Homo sapiens: one gene and its partners. The protein of the gene in region 4 purifies or fractionates together with the protein of the main gene of each other region. This does not show direct contact. Each region holds a gene or a part of one and is shown on either strand. Other genes may lie near its edges.

Region 1 (4,549 bases), on a different chromosome or scaffold from region 4:
ACCTTTATGTCTTTTATTTAGTATGTGTTGCAATGTCTTGTTCTGCTGCCTATTATCTTCATCACATTGTAATTTCACCACAGACAAATGCACTTTAATTCCCTGTCTTTTGAGGCAGTACACAGACTGGCCTTGTATGGTTTATTGTTTACTCTCTCTCTTCAGGGAGTCAGTCCATTTCAGCATTACCTACAGGCTGAATGTACAAAATTATTTTTGATAGGTTAATCTGAGAAATCTGGCTGAAGTTTAGCCTAATTAGGTAACGGTTTTTGAAATATTTGGAAGAAGTTGTCCATTCTTCAGTATGTTTTTACATCTTTATTTTACTGATATGAAAATTTCAACATGTACTCTTTTTTTTTAAGAAGCAACCTAAACTATAGCTCACTTAGTATTTTATTTGGACTGAAAACAATTGTTTCGCTTTTAAACTTGGTCATTTTTTCTTTTAAATCTGTGGGAATAGCGAATTAATCTTAGAACAAAAATTAATGTCAAGTTGGTTTTTTTTTGTTTTCGTTTTGTATTGTTAGGTGGAGAAAACCCAAACCACCAGCATGTTGAACTAGAGAAAACAGGGCACTTATTTCACACCGATACTGTATTTGAAGCAGAGCCAGGAAAATTTGAAAGTCCTTAAATCTTGATTAAGTGGTCTGTGGGTGTTCATTCTGTTTTTAAAACAAAACTTTTTAAAACTGTGTAAGACCCGAGAGCTGAGGGGCTTTTTAGTAAAGGATTTTGTAGTGATTTTGATCTTTTCACCAGGACAGAACAGCTGCTTTTGTTAATCAGCAATTCTACCTTCAGTAAATTAAAGCCTTTATCTTACCCGGTGTACATGAAGTTCCTTAAAGATCTAATGCTTCCATGTACATTTTCTATGGTTTTACAGGATTATTATTGCCAATTTAGGTCAGATACATCACAGGAGGAATAAATTATTATTTTGATAGAGGTTATTAGCAGCATGTATACAAATTAGTTTAGATAAATCATGCATTGTCCTACAAACTAGTTATTTCTGGCTTAATGTAATATAGCTCCTGAATTTTTTCCAGCAGCATAATAAAATGGCTAATCAGGTGAATGGTAATGCGGTACAGTTAAAAGAAGAGGAAGAACCAATGGATACTTCCAGTGTAACTCACACAGAACACTACAAGACACTGATAGAGGCAGGCCTCCCACAGAAGGTGGCAGAAAGACTTGATGAAATATTTCAGACAGGTATAATATGCATTTCTTGTTTCTGACTGGTTATGAAAGTGAGGGCAAACCACTTTGAATTTTATAGTTTTTTAAGGTTAAATAATACTTATTGTTTCTGATCTGTAGAGCTGAATGTTTGTTACTTTCCCTTCATTGAAGGCATATTGGGTTTGACTTTGATACTCTTATTTCATTATTTTGAAGCCTTCTTAGTGTTGAATATGCAGTCTTAGTTGTTTCAGAACAGCACATCGATTTGTCTTAGATTTACCACCCATAAAAATGTATGTTTCTGCATACCAAATTTTACATTTTTTTCTTAATCAAAATCAGTCATCATTTTGCTTTTGCTTTTCTACTTTTACCTTCTTAAAGTGATTGTTAAATCAGCTTAGGTCTGATTAGGTGGCATAACAAGAGGATAGCTGTATCGTCTGAAACCATAATAAATGTCAGACTCCTTGAGAGTTTGTGGCTTGTCTAGTTTCTAATAGAAATCCACATCTCTCCGTAATTTGGAAGTGTTTGGTTGTAACAGCTGCTTCTTTTTTTTTTTTTTAATCCAGAAGTGCCATGGTTAAGTGCTTAAGCAAATTTGAACATCTTAATATAGTTGGTTGTAAGTGGTTTGAAGTTTTAAAGAGGGAGAGAAATATTTACCCTTAGGGAGCGTTGTTCATAAATGAATGTGTCCTCCTCCTTTGGGGACATAGATGGAAACTTTCTTCCTCTGTGTTGTGTGTGCCTATTCAGATTCTGAGAGAGAATTGAATTGTCTCACTCACAAATGTGTCTTAAGTACAGTAGTAGCAAATAGCTGTTTTTTTTTTTTTGTCCTTAAAAAATTTTTAAATCTGGGAAGCTTAGCATAATTTTAGACATTAAAATGACTTATAAAAATGACTCCTGGGTCATGGTCGCATTTGAAAATCAGTCCTCAGGAACTTTCTGTGACATTCTGCCATAGAGAATTGGCAGTGATCTGCTTAGAGATGCTCTCTTGTAGAGTGTTTTGTTATTGATAAGAGGCTGATGGTTTGGGCGTAGACTTGGTTTGACAAAATGGATTGATGGGTGTCCTGAGTTGTGGCTTCGGGTGGTGGTATGGAATATTCAAGTGAGGCAGCTCCAGTTATTTACACATGCTCATTTCGAGCTTTTGAAACAAATCATGGCAACTTTTTTAAAAAGTAACTTTGGAAGTGGCATTACATTTATTTAAAATTTACTATATGGAATAAAGTTCTTTTTAGCTTTATCAAAATGGAGTCACTTTTCATGTTCATATGAACTTGGGGGTTTTAATCTACGAAATACTTGCATTTTACGTTGGATCAATTCTGAAATATATTCCATATGTAAATATGACACAAACTTAACAGACTTAAGAAATTATATTTTAAACTTAGTAGATGTTCTGTGTGCAGTTGAATATACTTACATATATGAAATGCAGTGTATATATTTTCTGTCAAGTTTACTTGTAAGACCATAAAGTCTTTATTGCCATTTGAAAATGATTGTCGTTCTTGACAGTCAATGTGAATGCCACAGCATCTTTTAAATCTCAGCTTGTCACTTCAGAAGAACAAAGAATGCCTTAAAGTATGACTTTCAGAATTGATTAATCAAGCTGCACTTGCATTTGTAGAAGTTTAAAATTATGCCTTTCCACATTCTGACTGCAGCAAAGTGGATGCTCAGATAAACAAATGCATTTCAGTTTATCTTTGGTGTTCAGGAGGGAAAGCCTTTTGACACTTTTTGGAGAGTGGAAAGAATTACTTAGTAAAATTTGTTTTCAGATTTTCCTCCACCTCTTAGGTGGTTAGCATCAACTGTAACCGTCTGTAATTTGAAGGTTTATCCTTGGAAAACGCAATGTATTCTTATCACTCTAATATAAACCAAAATTTGTTGTATTAATGCATAATCTGTAATACAGTATGTACATCAGATTTAACTTTCAAGACTTATACCTTTGGGGGAGTGGGAAATGGATGTTAGGATTTGGCGGGGGAGGTTTGTGGATATGGAGATTGAAATTCATGTTTTTGGTTGTTGACATTTTATCTTTATTTTCATATTTGTCCTGGACCTTTCTATGTAGTATTTGGATAGCTGCGTATATGCATATAGTTAAATGAAAATACAGTTTGTTAGTGATCATATTGAATGTAACAATTCTTGATTAAACGTCAGTAGAGCTTAGATTACCCCTTTTGTTGCAATAACGTTACCCCTTTCAATTTAATTTTTAGGATTGGTAGCTTATGTCGATCTTGATGAAAGAGCAATTGATGCTCTCAGGGAATTTAATGAAGAAGGAGCTCTGTCTGTACTACAGCAGTTCAAGGAAAGTGACTTATCACATGTTCAGGTAAGGTCGTTACTCAGAAATGTCTTTGAACAATTAGTAATCTGAAATTATTTTACTATTACTTTTTTTCCTATGGAGAAGTGGTATTTTTTGTTTGTGACTACCTCTTCTTTTAAAAAATTAGTTTAAAGGAAAAAAACTGCTTGTGGCAGAGTTTCAGAAGCCCAAGTATAAAGCAAAAGTTTTCTCCCACCCCCTTGTGCAGTAAGTTATTTTAAAAACTTAAAATTAAAGCCAAGTTTTGATGGTTGTTACTATAGGTTTTTACATGTTACTCAGCTTTTTAACATTTGGGGGTTATTTGATCCTGTTTTATTATCTTGGAGGAAAATGTAGGTGGGAGGAATAGTTTCCGACATCTGGCAAAGACAGTCTAGATACAGTCACATATCAACAAGTGGAAGACTGTGTTTTCCCAGGGTAGAAGGTAAGCTCCCTGAGGTCTATACTGCCTTACTGCTGTCTGCTCCAATCTCTGGCACATAGTAACCACTCGGCAAATACTTGTTGAATGAATCAGTAAATCTTTTGTTAAAATCCTGGTTTTCTGAAATTTAAATTTAATTATGTATCTGACCCTTCAGATATTTTTGGTGATTCTTTTTATTGAATTACTTGTCTGTTCTAGAACAAAAGTGCATTTTTATGTGGAGTTATGAAGACCTACAGGCAGAGAGAGAAACAGGGGAGCAAGGTGCAAGAGTCCACAAAGGGACCTGATGAAGCGAAGATCAAGGTAAAACTTGACTTGGGTAGTTGTAATGAAATTGCATTTAATGATGAGGTCAAATGCCTCTTTCCATGTTTCCTAGAAAGTTTCACTTTTTTTTTTTTTGAGACGGAGTCTTGCTCTGTCGCCCAGGCTGGAGTAGCGGCGCAGTCTTGGATCACTGCAAGCTCCACCTCCCAAGTTCATGCCATTCTCCTGCCTCAGCCTCCCAAGTAGCTGGGATT
Region 2 (4,549 bases), on a different chromosome or scaffold from region 4:
ATCACAGCCCCAACGAGACCACGGTCAAGCCTGTGACTTAGGAATGCAGACAAAGCCCGCCTATAAGGCTGATTTTTAAAGAAATCAAGAACAAAACCCTTCTTTACATTTTTCTTCTCAAATGTGAGAATTACTTTTATAACATATTGACAAGGTCATTTCATAAAGTTCTGATTTTCTACTTTAGACGATGGTTCTGTTTACTTACATTTGCTACAAATACTGTGCTTCCAAGTCTTCCAGCCTGTAATGCATGGATAATCTCATTTGGGATGTTGGGATTATTTAGGATACTGGGTGGGATAGTAATCATTCCTGGGCCACCTGGTCCCATACCCATCCCACCAGTCGTAGCCATCACCTTTTGCATTGCTCTCCTGGCATGTTCACCATCAGGATCCTAAAACAAGCACAAAAGGTGTTACGTTTAACTGACCCAGTACAACGCAAACCATGCTTGCACAGTAAATGATATTCTCAAGACTTAGAAACTGAAAGGTTGTTTGGAAAGCATCTCTCAAATCTATTAACAAGAAAGTCAAATGAACTCAACTACCAGCTTAGAAGAGTCCAGCTAAAGAAATAGGAAAGGAAGAAAAGGCATGAAGTGTAGCACTAAAAACACAGCTCTCAATTGCACTAAGTAAAAAAGAAAAGCAGGGTAGGGAGGGAAACATGATTAGCTGATATAATGTAGAACCGCCAGACTGAAATTAGAGCTTCATGGGCTTGGTATAGCTGAATCTTACTAATTCATCAATGGGGTTTTGTAACTTCTGCAAACCCCGTCAATGGCTTCCAGAAGTTTGAGAAACAGTTCTAGACCACACAAGCGCCCCCATCCTTCAAGTCCTTCAGGTGTTGGAGGCGTGTGTGTGAGGGCTGCGCAGTAAAACAACATCTGGGAAGGTCTGTGAAGCTCTGTACTGACTCTCTTCTTCAACTCTCTGTCCTGTCAATTACCACCATCAGCACTAAAAAAGACATCATAACACATGAGAGACCTTAGACCCTACCAAGCTTCACTCTGAATCTACTCATCTTCCTCCCCAAGAGAAGAGGTGAAAAGAAGTTAAGAGGGATGTTTTTTTGAGACAGAGCTTTGCTCTTACTGCCCAGGCTGGAGTTCAATGGCGCGATCTCGGCTCACTGCAACCTCCGCCTCCTGGGTTCCAGCGATTCTCCTGCCTCAGCCTCCCGAGTAGATGGATTACAGGCACCCCCCACTACGCCCAGCTAATTTTTTGTATTTTTAGTAGACAGGGTTTCACCATGTTGGTCAAGCTGGTCTTGAACTCATGACCTTGATCCACCCACCTCAGCCTCCCAAAGTGCTGGGGATTACAGGCGTGAGCCACTGCGCCCAGCCAAGAGGGATTTAATCAACAAAAAAACCTTCTTCCTCAAGGAATATATTTGATTCAGATGAGATGTGAAAGCAGGTTTGAGGAATAACAAACTCACTTTATTTTTTTATTTTTTAGACAGGGTCTCACTGTTGCCCGGGCTGGAGTGCAATGGTGCAATCTCAGCTCACTGCAACCTCCACATCCTGGGCTCAAATGATCCTCCTGCCTCAGCCTCCCAAGTAGCTAGGACTACAGGCATGCGCCACCATGCCTGGCTAATTTTTGTACCTTTTGTAGAGAGGGGGTTTCACCATGTTGCCCAGGCTGGAACAAACTCACTTTTTAAAAAAAGAAAAAAGATGGGCCAAGAAGAAGGGTCAGATGGAGTAAAACTTAATGGCACAAACCCACGGGCTCATGGTTTGAGAGTCCCTGAGACAACAAGGCCTCAGACAAATCACAGATATTAGAAGGTGGTCAGCAGCCACTCAGGATCTGCTTGGCCACCACCCCAAAGTCCTTGCAGGGAATGGCTGCTGTAGGCTATGACCGACACTCTTCATTAGAAACAACAGGCTGGCACTTGCTTTGTAAATGCCGTCTGGGACCATGACCGTCTTTCCCTAATTCCAAAGTAGGATCACTCAACAATTACACACAGTATCCGCAGTGTTAAGCAAGAGCTTACTTCTTTGACTTTCAGTGGTCTTCCGCTCAGACTATGCTTGTTTAGGACTTCCGCAGCTTTTTTCATGCTCTCTTCCATCTTGAATTCAACAACACTATAGAGTCAAAAGGAAACGAGTCGAGTGAAACCAGTCCTACAAGTTAGAAGGCTCAAATACCAATAAGTAACTAGACGATACTTACGCACATCCCTTTGGAGGAAGCCAGAGACCAGTCAGAAGAGCAAGGAAGGGGAAAAAGAAAAGAAAAAAATAGTAAATATCAATGACAGTTATAAACAAACTAAAAATATGATTTATGTCACAAAGTTAGTCTTTTAAAATGAACCCTTCTAAGGGGAAGCTGACAGAAGTGCCTCGCCTCGCCTTCCTTGTTAAAAGCTGGGCTCCTTAATATCTCCTTCTCCTACGCGTTACCAGCATTGCACTAGAGCTGCTGACATTTAATAAGCAGACCTAAATTCAGGGTCTCCAAGAAATCACACCAACTTTAGATCTGCTTCCCTCTGTACTCAATCGAGTCCTTACCATATTCCTCCTAAATCCATCCCTTCCGTAAGTTAAGCTCATCCTTTTGATTATTCTAAGCCATTCTATTGCACGACAGAAAATAGTTTATGTTCTCTTTAAACTAGGCCAATTTTGAACATTCAGGTTTTTAATATTTGGTTTACAATTTACTGGCACAAAGGCAACTTTTCGGAATCTTTGGTTCACACAACTTTCAAATTCAGCAAACAACCAAGAGTAACATTTTCTAGACAAGAACACACGTTTTACATTAATTATACCACCGCTAAAATTCCATGCATAATTCACACACAGCCAATTCCTCTGTTAACAAAGAGACAATGCTGCTATTGGTCCCCAGTTATCCAAATTGGGCATCCAAACAGAATACCAAAAAGCTCTTTGGCCAGCCATTTGGAAAAGCGGGACTCCCATTTGCAAATCCCCTCCCACCCCACTCAAATGTTTGGCAAAATCAAACATAGCTACTGTAACATGAGCACTCACTGCCTTCCTGATTTCATTCGATTCCACGCCACCATACAGTTACATTTTTCATGTAGTAAATCCACAGAAGAAATTCTCTCAGACACTTACCCTTGACTTTCCTTCAGCGTCCATTAAGAGCTCCACGTATGTTACCTCACCAACTACAAATCAGTTTCCAGACGACACATAAACCAAGGGAGAAAAGCCAAGAAAACAATGGGAATTTAGAACAATCATCAGCAACCTTGTATGGAGCCTCTGCCTTATAAGAAAGCCCAGAAACACTCCATATTCTCTAAACCACCGAACTAGGCATTACAGGTGTGCAGTAAAAGTAGGTGAAAACACGTTAACAATATGTCCTTGATTTTCCTCCCACCACAAACAAGCTATTCCACAGATTTCCGTATCAATTTCCCTGTCTGGAAGACTCATTCATGACTAGAGGCAATCCAAATCTATAGGAAAGAAGTCTGCGTGATTTACTTTTCTGGGGAAGGGAGGAGGTTTTACACATACGCTCTCATTGGTGGCAAGCAGGTGAAATGCATACAAATTGCGATGCCATCGGGCTGAGCTCACATGCTATAAATACAAGGACGCACGTATGCGAAGGTATAAGCTCACAGGCACACACGGCCGCAGGGCCAGCTTCACAGGTGAGCAACTCGTGCAATTGTACAGAGCCCCGCACTCAGGGGCCCTGAGCTTGGTTTAATGCTGTTATCGCTGCCATGACATTCTTAGTTTTTTTTTTTAACAAGAGGCCCCTTGTTTTCGTTTTGTGTTGGGCCCCACAAATTCTATAGCTGGTCCTGCACACAGCACTAGGCTCCACATCTGTAGAGGCAGAATGTTTGAATATAATAAGATCACAAAACCAGAGCAGCATCTGGATTCTCTTCAGTGAATTAGGCCAGGCTTCATTCTTGCCGCTTTCTAAACCTCCCCATTTAAAGGACACAAATAAATTCAAATTTAGGGCTCAGATTTTGTATCTAAACAGTTAAACAGACTCATATGATTCTAATCTACACAAAAGGGAAAAAACCAAAGCATTTCAAAAGTTTCTGCAGATTTTCCTCAAGGTTTGGATTGCCAATTCATGACCACCATGACCAGATGTTAGAATCCATCAAGACAACCACCAAAATGGCTGCTGAACTTGAAGATGGCACACAGAAAACAAATGTAAAGTGTTACCCTGGAGAAAACTATCTCTAACCAGACTCTCCAAAGGCAAAAAATGGGCTTTTGTTGTCCTCTGGATCGGTTTGGTTTAGCAGTACAAGGGTAAAAATAACCCGCTTAACGGCCTCAACAAGTCATGCCTATTCCAACTCTTTTGTTTAAAGGACATTAAAATTATGAGGCTATAGGAAGAAAAATTTTTAATGAAAAACAAGGTAAAATTATTTTACAAAAAATTTAAAGATCTGAAGGACATATTTATTAATGGCTCTGCACATTGGTTGAAGGCAAGAAAGCCAAGTGTCCAAAGTTTACATCTAGAGC
Region 3 (4,549 bases), on a different chromosome or scaffold from region 4:
TTTTTTTTTTTTTTTTTTTTAGACAGAGCCTCACTCTGCCACCAAGGCTGGAGCACAGTGGCATGATCTTCGCTCATTGTAACCTCTGCCTCCTGGGTTCAAGTGATTCTCATACCTCAGCCTCCCGAGTAGCTGGGATTACAGGCGTGCACCACCACATCCAGCTAATTTTTGTAGTTTTAGCAGTGATGGGGTTTCACCATGTTGGCCAGGCCGGTCTTGAACTCCTGGCCTCAAGTGATCCGCCCATCTCAGCCTCCCAAAGTGTTGGGATTACAGGTGTGAGCCACTGCGCCCAGTCCACTTTAGGTATCCTTAACCCAATTTTAAAGATAAGCAATGGAGGCACAAAGAAACAACCTGCCCACAACTAAATAGAAGGTAACAGCTGGTAACGTGACAGATTTGTACCCAGGAAGACTGGGGTTACTTCTATAACCTTTTTTAAAAAAAGGAATTGAGACTGTGGACAAGGTAAAAATATTACTTTCATACACTGCTACTAAAACTATATTGGAAAACCCTTTCTAGGGCAACTTGGTAATATGGATCAAGTCTTAAATAATATTTTTACATGCTTTAATCAAGTATTCTACTTCCAGGTATTTACCTTAAGAAATAAGATGCACACAAATATGTAAGCCCAAGAATGTACATTAGAGTATTATTCATAATTTCAAATAAATTTACAGACAACCTAAATGTCCAACAGAATGGTTCAAAACATTTCCCCTTTTCATCATATTGTATAATTATAAAATTACCACTATAACAAATTTTAAAGATATAATAGTAGATGTCATTTGTTTCCCAAACCCACTTCTCTGACATGACAGTTGACAGCTTAGTGTATATCTATCTTCTCTTTATACTGGAATATAATTATTTTTTCTTTTTTTTTTTTGAGATGGAGTCTCGCTCTGTCGCCCGGGCTGGAGTGCAGTGGTGCGATCTCCGCTCACTGCAAGCTCCGCCTCCTGAGTTCACACCATTCTCCTGCCTCAGCCTCCCAGGTAGCTGGGACTACAGGCGCCCGCCACCACGCCCGTCTAATTTTTCTATTTTTTAGTAGAGACGGGGTTTCACCGTGTTAGCCAGGATGGTCTCGATCTCCTGACCTTGTGATCTGCCTGCCTCGGCCTCCCAAAGTGCCAGGATTACAGGCGTGAGCCACCACGCCTGGCCGTTTTCTTCTTTTTTTTTTTGTTTTGAGGCAGGATCTTGCTCTGTCACCTAGGCTGGAGTGTAGTGGCGCAGTCATGGCTCACTGCAGCCTCAACTTCCTGGGCTCAAGTGATTCTCCTACCTTAGCCTCCCAAGCAGCTGATACTACAGGCATGTACCACCACGCCCAGCTTATTTTTCTATTTTTTGTAGAGACGGGGTCTCCCTATGTTGTCCAGGCTGGTCTCAAATCCATGGACTCAAGCAATACTCCCACCTCAGCCTCCCAAAGCGTTGCAATTACAGGCATGAGCCACCACGCAGGCTGTTTTAATTTTTGAACCATGTAAATGTGTTCTGAAATAGAAAATAGGCCAGGCACAGTGGTTCACGCCTATAATCCTAGCACTCTGGGAGGCCAAGGCGGGTGGATCACCTGAGGTCAGGAGTTTGAGACCAACCTGGCCAACACGGTGAAATGCCATCTCTACTGATAATACAAAATTAGCTGGGCATGGTAGCACATGCCTGCAGTCCCAGCTACTCGAAGACTGAGGCAGGAGAATCACTTGAACCCGGGAGAAGGTTGCAGTGAGCCAAGATCACGCCATTGCACTCCCGCCTGGGCGACTAGAGTGAAACTCCATCTCTAAAAAAAAAAAAAGAAAAGAAAAGAAATAGAAAATAGGCTGGACGTGGTGGCTCATGCTTGTAATCCCAGCACTTTGGGAGGTCGAAGCAGGCAGATCACTTGAGGTCAGGAGTTTGAGACCAGCCCGGCCAACATGGCGAAACCCCATCTCTACTAAAAATACAAAGATTAGCCAGGCATGGTTGCGTGTGCCTGTAATTCCAACCTGGGATGCTGAGGCATGACAATTGCTTGAACCTGGGAAGTGGAGGCTGCAGTGAGCCAAAATCACACCACTGCACTCCAGCCTAGGTAACGGAGTGAGACTCTGTCTAAAAACAAAAACAAAAAAAAACAAGCATATATTTCTGATCCTGTGCCAAAAAATCAAAAACAAATACATTTATATAGCACATGGCACAGAAATGAACAATTTTTATATTATGTTCAATATATACACTGCAAATAAAAACTAATCCTGGCCAGACGCGGTGGCTCACACCTGTAATCCCAGGACTTTGGGAGGCCGAGGCGGGTGGATCACGAGGTCAGGAGATTGAGACCATCCTGGCCAACATGGTGAAACCCTATCTCTACTAAAATACAAAAAATTAGCTCGCCGTGGCTCCTGTAGTCCCAGCTACTCAGGAGGCTGAGGCAGGGGAATGGCTTGAATTCGGGAGGCAGAGGTTGCACTGAGCCGAGATTGTGCCACTGTACTCCAGCCTAGCGACAGAGCAAGACTCCGTCTCCAAAAAAAAAAAACAAAAAACAACAACAAAAACTAATACTGCTGACTAGAATGAACTACAGGCACTGGCAAAAATCACTGACTGTAGTCACTGCACTATCATGACTATTCCTGAATGTTTGTGAAAACTTAAAAGACACTCATATATAAAACTGGGTTCTGTTTTTGCAAAAACCACAAATCAATTTGTTTTGGATTTTACCTATCTTATGGTATCCATTTACAGTCTTCACAGAGCCCTTCAAATTCCTAGGTAATATTTGCAGCCTGTTAGAAACTATACCACTACCGATGTGAGAATTCTGTATTTTAGAAAACAGAATTTACCCTCTTTTTAATTTCTTCTTGCCTTTTCTTCTGTTGCCGTTCTTTCTCTTTTATCTTCTCTGCTATTTTTTTCTTTTCTGAAATTTTTACCTCTAAAAGTAAAAAAAAGTTTTATTCAGTTATACTGAGTATTTTCCAGTTTATGGATGAGACAGACATGATACTTGTATACTATTAAGAGACCAAACCTTTCCCAGCTTCAAACAGTGATTTTTCTCACAAATAATGGGAAACTTCTGGGACTCTTCCTTCTCCTCTCTAATGTGACCCCTAAGATCCAAATATCTCTTCATATTTCCCCACCGTCCTATAGGCAGGGCTTAGATCATTCAACTATAATTAATGCCAGAACCTCTACCCTTTCCTACTAACAAGCACTCATACAGAAATACAGCAAGTATCTAATCTGATTATATTTTGAGGCGATAGAGAAAAGTTGCAGGGAAAACAGAATAAAGTGGGAATGGAAGGACACTTGGTTTCTAAATACCAAAATGTTCCATTTTGTGAGCGTTCTGTCATTTGTCTTAATACAAGTCACAAATGCTCAGCAAGACATAAAAACAAAAATGGAGGCGCCCCAGTGGCTCACCTGGTTTTACTTCTGCTTCCTCTTTTTTTTCATCATCATCGTCATCCCAGTTATCCTAAAGAAAAGGACTTCCATTAATAATTCTTGCATGTTTGCTTTTCTATGTGAACTTTATTATCAACTTGACTAACTCCAGAGAAATGTTTGTTGGTATTTTTTTGTACTGCATTAAATTTATAAATTAATGTAGGGGGAATTGACATCTTATAATGCTGAGCTGCCCTAACCAAGAATAAGAACTGTCTTTCCATTTGATCAAGTACATTTTTGTACCTTTCAGAAGTGTTTTAAAGTGATTTCCCTATTAGAGGCTCTGCGCATTTCTCTTTAGATTTATTCCTAAGTATTTCATCTTGTATGTTGCTATTATAAATAGGGTGTTTTCCTATTATGTCCTCTAGGTGGCTATTATTTGTGTATAAAAACCTATCGGCAAGACCCAGTCTCTGCAAAAAAAAAAAAAATTAAAAAATTAACTGGGCAACGTGGCATGTGCCTGTAGTCTCAGCTACTTGAGAGGCTAAGGTGGGAAGATCACTTGAGCCCAGGAGGTTAAGGCTGCAGTGAGCTATGATAGTGCCACTGCACTCTATCCTAGGCAACTCACTATCATAAAAACCCTGTCTCAAAACAAATAAACAAAAATGACTATTGGCTTTTTTATATGTTAATATCCTGCTACCTTACTGAATTCATTTATCACTTAAGTTAGATTTATCGTTGCTTCTCTAGGGTTTTACAGGTATGCTACCTTATCTGCAAACAAAAGATAGCTTTACTTCTCTACCAATCCTTAGGCCCTCACAAGTGATTTACCTAATTGGGCCAGCTAAACCTCTAGTGCAATGTTGAACAGCAGCAGAAGTAATGGGCATCCTTGCTTTCTTGATGGAAATGCCTCTATTGTTTCCCCATGAATTGCTATGCATCCCAACAAATTTATGCAATAAAATTTACCAGACTTTTTTTTTTTTTTTGAGACGGAGTTTCTTGCCCAGGCTGGAGTGCAATGTCACGATCTCAGCTCACTGCAACCTCCACCTCCTAGGTTCAAGCGATTCTCCTGCCTCAGCCTCCCCAGTAA
Region 4 (3,860 bases):
CCTCGTGTATATGGCAGTATCATAGAGGTTTTAGAGCTGGTAGAGATCTGGCAATCTAACTTAACTCTTTCTTGCTAGCAAAGGCTGTTGGTCACCTGACTGGCCTAACGGTAGGAGGTAGAAGGCAGAAGGAAAGTAACTGAATTGAGAAGCTGTTTCTGTTTAATAAGGTGTTGCTGAAGCTAGTTAAACCCTCTACCTGTCTTTAAACCCTCTACCTGTCTTTGGGTTAATTTACATGTTTGTCATCCCCTTACCTGGATATTTATAGCTGTACCCAGGAACCTTGTCTATACTGAGAATATATAGTGATGAGGGTTTTTCTTTTTCCCAGGTATTCCTGATTGTCATCAAGCTTATAGTAGATGAACCACTAAAATAATACTACAATTTGACATTAGTGTTCTTGTACTTTATACTATTGAAACTGAAAAATACTGTATTAAACCAAGTAATCTGACAGTCTATGAATGTTCTAAATGAATACCACCTCCAAGAAACATGGAAACAATGGTAACTGTTTTTCCTAGTAAACTCATTCACACCTATAAAATGAATGGAAATTAAATTGTTATGGTCACACAACGTCATAATGCGTTACAGGCAAAGCTGTTGACCACTTAGAGGTAGTATTCATTGAGAAACATTCTTAGACTGTCAGATTGCTTGATTTAGTGTAAAGTAATTTTTTTTTTTTTGAGACAAGGGTGTTTCACTCTTGTTTCCCGTGCTGGAGTGCAGTGGCGCAATCTTGGCTCACTGCAACCTCAGCCTCCCGGGTTCAAGTGATTCTCCTGCCTCAGCCTCCTGAGTAGCTGGGATTACAGACGTGGGCCACCACGCCTGGCTAATATTGTATATGTAGTAGAGACGGGGTTTCTCCATGTTGGTCAGGCTAGTCTCGAACTCCTGACCTCAGGTGACCTGCCCGCCTTGGCCTCCCAAAGTGCTGGGATTACAGGCGTGAGCCACCATGCCTGGCCAGTGGACAGTATTTTCTAGTGGGGAGAATTAAAGAAAAACTTTGTCCGGGTGTAAACCAGCTTTAAATCTTGGTTCTCTTACAGTGCCATGGTAGGGATAGTCAGTGGAGGCTTTCAAATTCAGAAAGATTGATAATACCTTAACATGGTTCCTATTTCTAATTAATAATAAAATGTATTTGTGCTTTTTTAATCAAAGGTTTCTACGATAAAGACAGTTCAGGGTGGAGTTCTAGCAAAGATAAGGATGCGTATAGCAGTTTTGGATCTCGTAGTGATTCAAGAGGGAAGTCTAGCTTCTTCAGTGATCGTGGAAGTGGATCAAGGGGAAGGTAAGTGATTTCTTAATCACCTTACGTGTATGTATAATAACAGTTTAATAAGTCGTTATCCTGACCACCTGTTTGGATGTTAAGCATTATGTCTGTTTGGTCATTGTATTTTCTTAGCCGTAAGAGGCTTTTACTAAATTGAACCTGTTACTTAGAAATTAGATGAAAATAGGAATATGCTCATTGGCATAATGAAATGAGTTATTCTATTTCTCGAGTTTTATATGTTCTACTTAAAAGAGTAAGTTCATCTAGTGAATGGCCTAATTTGGTTGGGATTTTTGTGGACTCTATAACAATTTCTAAACACCTTGTATTTTTGATTACACAAGTGTGGTGAACTGACCCCACGTGCCTAATAGCTGTGGTTAGTCCTGTGTCCTGATTTTTCGCAAACAGGCCTAAAACTCTTAAAAACATCTTAGTTCAGGTAAGGATTATTTTCTACCTTTTATCCAAAGTCTGTCACACAGGTGAATTGTCCTTTAAGTGACATCCTAGTATAACTAGGACGATTGATATTTGGTGTGCTATTTTCTTGTTTTCCCTACCATTAAATATATTTGGATGAGCACTTTAAATGAAGGTTGTGAGCTGTGTGCCGATTTCAAATAAAATCCTTATTCTTAATTTTGGCATCTGTGAGGCCTTTTAGGCTATACAACTTTATAGAAATGTAAAGATTACTGATTTTAGAAAACGAGGTTATGTAAATGATGCTGGTTAGAGAGCCTTATTTGTCAAGTAACTCAGAATTGGATTGTTGACATCCTTATGGTTAGCCATAACTTAAGTCTCCAGATACAGTTCTAGAGTAGGGATAAGAATCTGATAATGGTTAAATGATATGATTCTGATTAATTGCTTGTGCTGTTCAGGTTTGATGATCGTGGACGGAGTGATTACGATGGCATTGGCAGCCGTGGTGACAGAAGTGGCTTTGGCAAATTTGAACGTGGTGGAAACAGTCGCTGGTGTGACAAATCAGATGAAGATGATTGGTCAAAACCACTCCCACCAAGTGAACGCTTGGAACAGTAAGTTTTTGAAGTGTATGTTACTTGTGATGAAGCCTTACTAGCTAGTATAACAAATGAACTTATCCATTTTTTGATTTGAGGGAACTCTTTTCTGGAGGCAACACTGGGATTAATTTTGAGAAATACGATGACATTCCAGTTGAGGCAACAGGCAACAACTGTCCTCCACATATTGAAAGTGTGAGTATTTTTGCTTGACTTTTTAAGACACAGAGAGGTTAAATGTTTTCATGTTACATTAGAATGTGAGATGGGCTTCATAAAGTCATGTAGACCAGAGGCTTCATAGATTTGTGGAAAAGGAGAAGTTGAGTTCAGTGTCACCATTATGAATAATTTATTACCTAAAATAGAAAATGGGTCAAACATAGGAACAACCCAAAGTCTTCTCCAATGTGCAGTAAGCCTGGGGGTTGGTTTTTCTCAAAGTATAATGTGATAATTTTACTTAAACTATAAACTGAGTTACCAATCAGCTGTTGGTTGGTTGTTTCCATTATTAGTATAAAACAGAAATAGCTCTAGATAGCATTCCTAACCCCATTGAATTTCTTAACAGTTCAGTGATGTTGAGATGGGAGAAATTATCATGGGAAACATTGAGCTTACTCGTTATACTCGCCCAACTCCAGTGCAAAAGCATGCTATTCCTATTATCAAAGAGAAAAGAGACTTGATGGCTTGTGCCCAAACAGGTAAGCTCAACTCATAAGAGTAAAACATCATATTTCTTCTGTAAAGGACTAGACAATAAAATATTTTATTTTTTATGGGTCATGCAGTTTTGCAGCTGCTCTGCGCTGCTATTGGACTGTGAAAGAAGCCATAGATGATACATAAATTATTGGTTACGGCTGTATTCCGTAAGAGCTTTATTTATAAAAATAACAGGCTTTATTTACAAAATAGTCTCAGTTTGCTGACTCCTCTTAGAGGTGGAGCAGAGAAGCCACTTTTTGGAAAACTTAAGCATAAACTAAAAGTACTAATTATTAGTAATAGGGTAGTTAAAAAACACTGTCATCTACCAATGTCTGTTTAAAAGTAATGAGCAGGATTTGTTTGTTTGTTTTTGAACAGGGTCTGGAAAAACTGCAGCATTTCTGTTGCCCATCTTGAGTCAGATTTATTCAGATGGTCCAGGCGAGGCTTTGAGGGCCATGAAGGTAGATGTTTCTTTATAAAATGGGAAATTGTAGAACTTTGTAGGTGGCCATTGAGAGGGCTTTCTAAATGATGCTAAGACTTAAGTAGAATGAAAACCAGTTTTCAAGTGTAATCTGTAATCTATAAATTACAAAAGGGAATTATGTTGTGATGAACTTTTCAAACAGGGTAGGTAGAGTTAACTTAAAAATTAACTTATTTCTTAGGAAAATGGAAGGTATGGGCGCCGCAAACAATACCCAATCTCCTTGGTATTAGCACCAACGAGAGAGTTGGCAGTACAGATCTACGAGGAAGCCAGAAAAGTAAGTATGAGTTCCAGTGATTATTAGCTTTTT

What was found. The genes of interacting proteins can lie anywhere in the genome.
Region 1: the proteins of DDX3X (region 4) and HNRNPR fractionate together in Homo sapiens (co-fractionation; 2 studies listed by BioGRID). This does not show direct contact.
Region 2: the proteins of DDX3X (region 4) and HNRNPM purify together in Homo sapiens (affinity purification with mass spectrometry; 2 studies listed by BioGRID, with this or other methods). This does not show direct contact.
Region 3: the proteins of DDX3X (region 4) and EIF3J purify together in Homo sapiens (affinity purification with mass spectrometry; 2 studies listed by BioGRID, with this or other methods). This does not show direct contact.

The regions. Positions count from the first base shown.
Region 1 is NC_000001.11:23,337,536-23,342,084, reverse strand, and holds part of HNRNPR (heterogeneous nuclear ribonucleoprotein R), read left to right. Parts: intron 1-1,064; coding exon of another isoform or gene 1,065-1,076; coding exon 1,077-1,233; intron 1,234-3,476; coding exon 3,477-3,595; intron 3,596-4,223; coding exon 4,224-4,331; intron 4,332-4,549. UniProt on the Homo sapiens protein: Component of ribonucleosomes, which are complexes of at least 20 other different heterogeneous nuclear ribonucleoproteins (hnRNP). hnRNP play an important role in processing of precursor mRNA in the nucleus.
Region 2 is NC_000019.10:8,461,175-8,465,723, reverse strand, and holds part of HNRNPM (heterogeneous nuclear ribonucleoprotein M), read right to left. Parts: intron 3,196-4,549; coding exon 3,143-3,195; intron 2,228-3,142; coding exon 2,220-2,227; intron 2,132-2,219; coding exon 2,038-2,131; intron 401-2,037; coding exon 209-400; intron 1-208. UniProt on the Homo sapiens protein: Pre-mRNA binding protein in vivo, binds avidly to poly(G) and poly(U) RNA homopolymers in vitro. Involved in splicing.
Region 3 is NC_000015.10:44,549,847-44,554,395, reverse strand, and holds part of EIF3J (eukaryotic translation initiation factor 3 subunit J), read right to left. Parts: intron 3,521-4,549; coding exon 3,466-3,520; intron 2,966-3,465; coding exon 2,874-2,965; intron 1-2,873. UniProt on the Homo sapiens protein: Component of the eukaryotic translation initiation factor 3 (eIF-3) complex, which is required for several steps in the initiation of protein synthesis.
Region 4 is NC_000023.11:41,340,302-41,344,161, forward strand, and holds part of DDX3X (ATP-dependent RNA helicase DDX3X), read left to right. Parts: intron 1-1,182; coding exon 1,183-1,315; intron 1,316-2,193; coding exon 2,194-2,352; intron 2,353-2,435; coding exon 2,436-2,535; intron 2,536-2,914; coding exon 2,915-3,050; intron 3,051-3,435; coding exon 3,436-3,521; intron 3,522-3,728; coding exon 3,729-3,827; intron 3,828-3,860. UniProt on the Homo sapiens protein: Multifunctional ATP-dependent RNA helicase. The ATPase activity can be stimulated by various ribo-and deoxynucleic acids indicative for a relaxed substrate specificity.